Regions from separate parts of the Homo sapiens genome. Here all the other regions are linked to region 1. Evidence: fine-mapped expression QTL. A gene starts in region 1. Each other region holds a variant in brackets. All regions are shown on one strand. Distances are between the middles of the regions.

Evidence for each region. PIP is the estimated chance that this variant, and not a neighbour inherited with it, causes the effect.
Region 2: its variant is fine-mapped to the expression of BLOC1S5 in whole blood (GTEx, PIP above 0.99).
Region 3: its variant is fine-mapped to the expression of BLOC1S5 in whole blood (INTERVAL, PIP above 0.99).

What each region holds. Positions count from the first base shown.
Region 1 is chr6:8,063,307-8,066,161 of GRCh38, forward strand. BLOC1S5 (biogenesis of lysosomal organelles complex 1 subunit 5) reads right to left here and starts at 1,083. Exons shown (of 5, transcript NM_201280.3): 1 at 959-1,083. The coding sequence starts at 1,070. BLOC1S5-TXNDC5 (BLOC1S5-TXNDC5 readthrough (NMD candidate)) reads right to left here and starts at 1,108. Exons shown (of 13, transcript NR_037616.1): 1 at 959-1,108. All of the region lies in intron 3 of EEF1E1-BLOC1S5 (EEF1E1-BLOC1S5 readthrough (NMD candidate)), which reads right to left. RefSeq lists enhancers at 291-917, 527-716, 2,407-2,506, 2,517-2,666.
Region 2 is chr6:8,017,584-8,020,083 of GRCh38, forward strand. All of the region lies in intron 4 of BLOC1S5 (biogenesis of lysosomal organelles complex 1 subunit 5), which reads right to left. The region is part of intron 4 of BLOC1S5-TXNDC5 (BLOC1S5-TXNDC5 readthrough (NMD candidate)); the gene reads right to left. All of the region lies in intron 6 of EEF1E1-BLOC1S5 (EEF1E1-BLOC1S5 readthrough (NMD candidate)), which reads right to left. Among named protein-coding and RNA genes, the nearest start is that of BLOC1S5, 46 kb to the right of the region's middle. The variant T/C (reference allele first, on the strand shown) is at 1,381.
Region 3 is chr6:8,111,012-8,113,866 of GRCh38, forward strand. No RefSeq gene overlaps it. Among named protein-coding and RNA genes, the nearest start is that of EEF1E1-BLOC1S5, 9.8 kb to the left of the region's middle. The variant A/G (reference allele first, on the strand shown) is at 1,726.

The sequences.
Region 1 (2,855 bases):
GTAAGTCTCTTTTTCATAAGTCTGAAAAAGTCATTAAGAAAAGGTCTGAATTTAAGTCTTTTGGTGAGTCAGTTTATTATTCTTCTTAGTTACAACTATGTAGTTTAAAATGTAAGTCTCAAAATTCCTTGAGAAATTAAATCTAAGACAATGTATTATTCATATTCATTCACTGGCAATGTTCCCCAAATTTTTCATTTTTGCAGACATACGATGGGCAGGTTTCAATTCTCTATTTTAATGAATTTTATTAGTACATATCTTCTTAAGCATGTCAAGTAGAAAAAATAATACAAGCACTGTATATAAGCACTTTATATCTGGTATATATAAAGCACTACAACTCAACTGTCAAAGACTTTCACGCAGCAAACAGCGTTGTGAGCTTTAGGAGTCAAACCTAAAGCAGATTCTGTGAGAATCTAGGTTGTAACCTTCTCCCAGCTCAAAGCACACAGAACACATGGACATTTCTGAACGTGAATGGTTCTTTACAGTGCTATAGAGCGCCTTCGTAAGTGTATCTCACTTACTCCTCGCACGACCAGGAACAGATCGGGTAGGAGAGTGAGTAAAGCCAGTGACCCGAAGTCACTCAACTCCTAAGCGACTGCCTCCCGCCTCCCAGGTCCAATGCCCTTTCCACTACACGTCGGTGGCGAGGCTGCCCAAAGGCTCTGCGCCCAGGGGTCCTGAGCTTGCGGAATGGACGGGGGCGGGCCTGATGGCTCAGGCTGCGACAGAGGAAAGCGGGGAAACACGAAGAGTTGGGCTGGTTGGTTGTGGTGGGACGCATTTGGCGCGGGGAAAAAGGCGGGGACCGACCACGACTCCCCCACCCGCACAAACGCACGCGCGCCAGCCCGGGACCCGGGGGTCGGCCCGGGTCAGAGGGCGCCGCCTGGGAGATGAGGCTGTGCTGGGATCCACCAGGAACTATAGCCCTGACACTCCGTACCCTTGATAATGAGGTGCGCTGAGCCCGCAGTCCCCAGGGAGTCCCTCTTCTTGCTGCCACCGCCCGGGGCGGCCTCACAACCCACAGGGGTCTCTGTCCCTCCGCCACTCATCCCGACCAGTTCCGCCCACCCGCGGCCACGCTGCGCCTGCGCAAACCCGGCCGCCCTCTTACAAGGCGCGCCCGGGTTTTTTTTGTGTGTGTGTCATTACAGGGCGCCGGAGAAATTTAATCTACCCAGCGGGCGGTTCCGGAAAGGCGCCTGCCGTGTAGTCAGGCTGTGAACTGGCAGAAGCTCTTGCCGCCATGCTGGATCAGGGCGGATGCTGCTAGAATAGGAAGGTGCTTGAACTTTGGAGCTAAACTCAGAGCCCTGGTTATTTGGCTCAAAGCTGGTGCATTCCAGTACAGTTGTCCTCCCATATCTGCTGAGAATACATTCCAAGACCCCCAGTAGATTCCTGAAACTGCATATAGTACTGAACCATGTATATACTATGTTTTTTCCTGTATATACATATGATAAAGTTTATAAATTAGGCACAGTAAGAGATGAACAATTAGAACAATTTAATAAAAGTTATGTGAATGTAGTCTCTCTCCCAAAATATCTTATTGTACCGTCCTGCGGGTAATGAAACCACAGAAAGTGAAACCTCAGATAAGGGGGGACTACTGTATAGCAAAGCCAATTAGCTGGGGGCTGTTTCCCTACTATGCCATGAGTGTGGCTGACTATTCCTGCCTTTCTTTTTAGACACCTGTTTCCTAGAATGCTTCTCTTGCTCCCTCTTTCTGTTCAAGTCAGTAAACTCACGTTGTATAATAAAGAATTTGACTGGACTTTGACTCTGGTTCCTGGGAGGTACCCTCAATCCTTAGAATTTCCCAAGTGATAGAAGTGTCTTTGTTATTCATGGTGGGCCTCTGGAAATACACCTGAGTTTATGCTAATGAGATGGCTCATGGAGGGCCCAAGATGATTTCAGAATGGAGGCTGGCCACACCAGAAGGGCCGGCCAACCATGAGGGCTTAGGCTTTGAGTCACATAAGCAGGCCCACCTCTGGGGAGCAGATTGGGGCTGGAGACTGAGTTCAGCCATGTGGCCAGTGATTTAACCAACTATGCCTACATAATGGAACCCCAGTGAGTACTCTGGATGTGGAAGCTCAGGTGAGCTTACTGGTCGATAATCATTCATCAAAGTGTCAGGAGGGGGAAGCGTTCCTGAGGACACGTAAGCTTCTATTTGGGAAATCTCCCACATCTCGCCCTATACATCTCTTCATTTGGCTGGTCCTGATATGTGTCCTTTATAATAAAACTGTAATAGCAAGGAAAGCACTTTCTTGAGTTCTATGAGTCATTCTGTGAAACCTGAGGGAGTAAAGCGAATAGCAATGAAACATCATGTGTAGAGAGAAGCTGCGTGGGTGAGAACTGAGGCACCCTAGCAGACAGTGCTCAGGCCCTGGGCATATGACAGAGACAGCTGGTCAGAAGTGCAGGTGGCCTGGGAACCCCAAAGCTTGTGGCAGGTGTCTGAAGGGGAGTCTTGAGGAGGACCATGCTTTGACCTCTGAAGTCTGTGCTAACTTCGGATAGCACTGCAGTTTAACAAACACTTACATGGCACTTGCTACATGCCAGGTAATACTGTAAGTGGTCTACAAATTTGCATTCATTTAATCCTCATGGCCGGCCTTTGAAGTAGTTATTATTAATGTCCTCATTTACAGACGAGGAGGCTGAGGCACAGAGAGGTTAAATGACTGCCTGACTTGTATGTGGCAGAAACAACTGCCTCTGTGTCTCTGTGTATGTGTTTAAGCATAGGTGGTGGGTGAAGAGAGAGTGGGGAAGGGAGATTTGGAGAGAAGGGAGAGAGAAGCCAT
Region 2 (2,500 bases), 46 kb before region 1:
TTCTCTCTCATTTGGGTCAGGATGACAAACAGGATGAAGGGCTGAATAAGCCAATGTGCTCTAAGTACCCATGAAATGCAAACTTCTGCTAGTTGTTTTGCATAGCTACTTCTAAAAGCCTCTCCTTTAAGACGACATTATTCTCATTTTACAGACAAAGAAATTAAGGCTTAAGGACACTTTTATCCTCCATGGTCACTCACCTAATAGCTTGGTTGTAGATTCAAATTTAGGTCTTTCTGACACCCAAACCTACGCCTTTTCTATCACAGAGTGCAAATCAGATCTTTCCAGAGGAAGTTTTACGTAGGTAGCTAAAAATCCCTTTCACAAGACAAACGGTCTTCTGAGAGTCTTTTTGCTAGGCTGATCTGAAGCTCCCCAGCACCAAGACTGTTCAACTTCAGACTCACGTCAACTTCTTTCCAATTGAAAATTCTTGGTCGAACATTCTTCTAAAATGTCAGTCAAACTTTGCTCTAAAATATGTCCTACGGACACTTGGGATCTGAACAGATATTACAGTGGTAGGGAGAGAGGATTAGGGAGGAGTTTACTCATCCAATAAATTGGTTAAACAGGTTAAACAAAATCCAATGCGTTACTTTTTAACTTTTCAGCCTTATAGATTAGAACTCTCCAAAAGATGCATGAAGAGTTTATTAAATCTTCTGATGGAACTTTTGCAAAAACTGTTACAGTCTAAGAGAAAAGCCACAGTCAGACTAGAAAAAGAAAAAATGCAGATAAACTTCATCAAAATGATATTTAGCTTTAGTTGTGTTTTAATAAATACAGAGAATGTTAAACATGCATACTCAGATGTTATTTAATTTGTTCATTTCTTTGTAAATGGAAAGTCATCATTGGCTCAGCTGACCTTGTGATGTGGATCACCAGGCAACAGCCCGTGTTCCCCTTCCCAACCAGAACGCATTTTATCCAGTACAGCCCAATAAAGAAAAACGGAGCTTTGGCAGGCATACCAACCTCGCTTCAAATTCTGGTCTACCTGTCACTAGTTGCATGATGCTGAGCAACTTAAAGTTTCTTTAACTTTAAAATGAGGAAAATAAATACTCCGCATCCATAAATAATATTTATAAAGACTACAGGTAGAACATGTCAAGTTCCTAGCTCAGTGCCTGAGGAACTTAATAAAAGGTAAATATTATACAAATCACAAGCGAAGCATCTAGAAGGCAGATCACTCCACTTTTATCCCCTTGCCATTTCAGTTTCTGTTCTTTAATTTTAATAATTTACTTTTAGCAACAGATTATTGTAATAATTCAAACAATAGAGACAACTCAAGAGCAAGAGACTTTCCCCTCCATTCCTAGATTCAATTTAATCCTGGATGTAACCATTATTAACCAT[T/C]TGGCTACAAGAACAGTCTTTAAGACGCTGCAATATATTAGTGAATAAGATACTGCCAAAGATCAGTATTTCTATTGTGTAGTTTCAGAATATTATGAATAAAGACAAACATATTCAAGTAGCCTGTTCACATCAGGCATATCGCTTATTGGCCTTGTAGGCCGAGTGAAAATAAGCTAAAAGATGACAACTTCCAAATCCAAATAAAAATCTAGTTTTGCTCCCTTATCAAGAAGTTCTTACAGTCACTCCACGCTATCGTTTCCTAGTTTCCCACTTGTAATAGTAACTGCTAGGCATTCTTACTTTTTTTTTTTTTTTTGAGATGGAGTTTCCCTCCTGTTGCCCAGGCTGGAGTGCAATGGCACAATCTTAGCTCACTGCAACCTCTGCCTCCCGGGTTCAAGCAATTCTCATGCCTCAGCCTCTCAAGTAGCTGGGATTACAGGCAACCACCACCACACCTGGACAATTTTTGTATTTTTAGTAAAGACAAGGTTTCACCACACTGGCCAGGCTGGTCTTGAACTCCTGACCTCAGGTGATCCGCCCACCTCCGCCTCCCAAAGTGCTGGGATTACAGGCATGAGCCACCGGCGCCCGGCCCATTCTTACATTCTTTACAACAATCAGTAAAGAAAAAAGGGGGGGGGGGCGCCTATACATTCATGTATTGACAATACTGCAGTCTTTACATACAAATAAAACCCAGCTACCTGGAAATAACATTTATCTGAACCTTAGTTGAGAATGTGCTAAGACCTTTAAGTCATGCAAACGAAGAAGATGCTACAAAGTCCATTTACAAATACTGCACATGAAAAGCCCTTCTGATTCCGAGCCTACTTGACCTACATTACATACAATTCTAACCAGCTTAGTTAACTGGTTTCTAAGACGACACCCTATGAAAAAGTCACAAGTTAGAAAATGAAAAGGCTGATAATAAGGGAAGAATAACAGGCATCAGCCTTATAGCAAAAGAGGAGGCAGATACAAAAACTTAAAACACACAGTATCTGAGGGCAGTTGGTACAGAAACATAGCACAGTGTCTCTCTTTCTCATTCCCTAATGACATCACCATATTCACCATAATATAAAATCTGATATTCTCAGTA
Region 3 (2,855 bases), 48 kb after region 1:
GACCGTTGAGGACTACACTAGGTATTATGGGCTAGGTCTGAAAATGTTGCACATCATTTCTGTCCAGATCTCATTGGCTGAAACTCAGTCAGGAAGACACACCTGGCTAAAGGGAGGCTGAGTGAAGTGATCTGATCCGTCAGTCTGCTTGTTATTCTGCACCTGTGCCCCAGTTTTATTCCCATTCTCCTTGGCCCTGCTCTTTGACACAGAAGACTGAGTCTGTGGATGACATTACCCAGAGTCTCCTACCTTCTGGCTTCCAGATAGGTTCAGTGTGAGAGGCACAGTTAAGAGATTGGAGAGCATGAGTTTGGAGTATTTATTGCCTTTCTCCCTTCCTGCATTTGGCTGTGCAGTAGAGTCTGACTCCGTTTGTGATGTTTGACTGTTCACAGCATTTAGGCCTCCATCCACCCTTGCCCTGCCCACCATCATACATCTGGGACTTCATGTAAGGAACTCCCCACCCCAAGCTCCTGACCTCTTGATGTTTGAACCCCACAGCTTCATGACAGCTTGCACCTGCCCTTCCCCAGAAGTGCTCTGTGTGTTAGTAATAGACTTTCTTTCTTACCCTCTTGGTGCATGAAGGAGGGTCATTAGTCTCCATATCTGATCTATTGATTGGGAGGAAGTCTGTACCCTATTGGTGGAATGACCAGAAAACAGGCTGTGTTATCTGAGAGCAGTTGGTAACCTAGAAGTGGTAATGGCTTTCTATTCTCGCTAGTCCCTGGGCACCTCAACTTCCCGGATTGATTTTCTTAATCCTTTCCATGCTTCTATATCTAGTCCTTTCTTTAGAGCCTCTTGAAACATCAGAGTTAGATTCTGTTTCCTGCAGGAAACCTGATGGATATGGGAAGAAGAGGGAAGTGGTCTGGTGAGCATTTAGTCAGTTGCTGCAACATTATGATCAGTGCCAATTTTTAAGTTTAATCCTTGGCTTTCAGCGAATGTGGATATATATGGTCAACATTATTTGTCTTATATAAATGCACTAGCATATATAATACATATACTGATGAAAGTAGATGGACTTTTATGAGGAACTTTAGTAGATGAGGGTCTTTTTCACATTGAAAAATTTTGCTTTCAGGCTTTTTTTGAGATTAAAATGGCATTTGAACATTGGGATGAAGACTACTCATCTGAAACTGGGCTTTGGCTAACTGGGCACAAACATGCTTTATATAAATTTTCACTGTAGGGTCCAAAGTAGTTCTTTTTTTATTTTTTTATTTTTTGGGGACAGGGTCTTACTCTGTGGCCCAGGCTGGAGTGCAGTGTCACAGTCTCGGCTCAGTGCAGCCTCTGCCTCCCAAGTTCAAGCAATTCTTCCACCTCAGCCTCCCGAGTAGCTGGGATTACAGGGCCATGCCACCACACCCAGCTAATTTTTGCATTTTTAGTAGAGACGGGGTTTCACCATGTTGTCCAGGCTGATCTCGAACTCCTGACCTCAGGTGATCCAGCCCCCCCCAAACCCCCTTCAGGCTCCCAAAGTGTGGGATTACAGGCATGAGCCACCACTCTCAGCCGGCCCAAAGTAATTTTCAGTGAAGGGGTACTGCTGTAAAAATGAGTCTGCAAACTAGATGCCCTTCCTCCTCCAATTCATCCTGCTGAGATGCACATAGATGTGTGTGTCTTAGAATCAGCTGATGCTGGGAATAGGTCCCTTGTTATTAAGGAGGAAGATGCCAAGGGAGTCAGGAGGAG[A/G]GAGGTGTGTTCCTACAGTGCTGCGTGGAATTCTGCAGATGACCTAGCTGCTCCTGTCTTACTGTCAGTTTCTGCAGTCAAATCAGGCAGTTGTAACTTGCGTTTCTCTACTTTCTTTGATTTCATATCAAGCATCCTGCAAATTGGTGGGCATTTTTCAAATTCCCTTAAAGTTTGTGAACAAGCATCTCCAAGGAGCACTTGCCATCTCTGTGCCTGATTTGTGTATGCTCACTGGCTTGCAGCTTTTCCCAGGTTCTCTGGTGTTAAATTAATAACAAATGATGTAGAGCTGACAGGCAGGTGAAACTGGGGAGAACCATGATATTAAAAAAAAATCTCAGTCTATTATGTAGCACAATGTGCAACACTTCGTCAGATTTTGCCTGCAGGTATCTTAATTTTGCTTAAATATTTTGCTCATATCTTTTTAACCCAGAAGATGGGAACGTAGCCCTTAACATCTCTCAAGCAGACTGTGTAGCATATGTTAGTGTGATACAGAATACCAAACTCTGCCAGCTATTTGGCATTCTTTGAAAAGGCACTAGATAAAATAAAAATAAAGAAGATAAAAATACTTTCATGGTGGAGGAATTGTCTGATTCCCACTCGAAGTTATAAGGCGCATATTTTGGATCAATATAAACATTATTTTCTCACAGACAGAGCTATCCAACTGTGACTGCCTCAAAGTTAGAGTACTCTTTGTCATTGCAAGTATTTAAGAAATTGGAGATCATCTGCCAAGATTCTTTGGAAATGATTCGTTGCAAGTATGCAAAATATTGGAAGAATACTTTGCAGTTTTAAACTACATACATTCAATCTGCTTTACATATTAAATTTCAATGTAATCTTTTAAAAATACTATGGAAAATTAATATACACACAAGTAGGGATAATAACATAATGAACCCTTATTACTGATTACCCAATTTCAGCAATGAGAACATTTATTTTAAAGAACAGTGCCACTGCTAAAAACAAATTTAGAAGCTTCTGGATTGGATGATGCCTGAAGTCCCCCAAATTCTATTTTATGGGCAATATAAGGGTCAGCCAAAAAGTGAACACCACTCAATGTCCATCATCTGATAATGAATAAACATAGTATGTCCATACAAGAG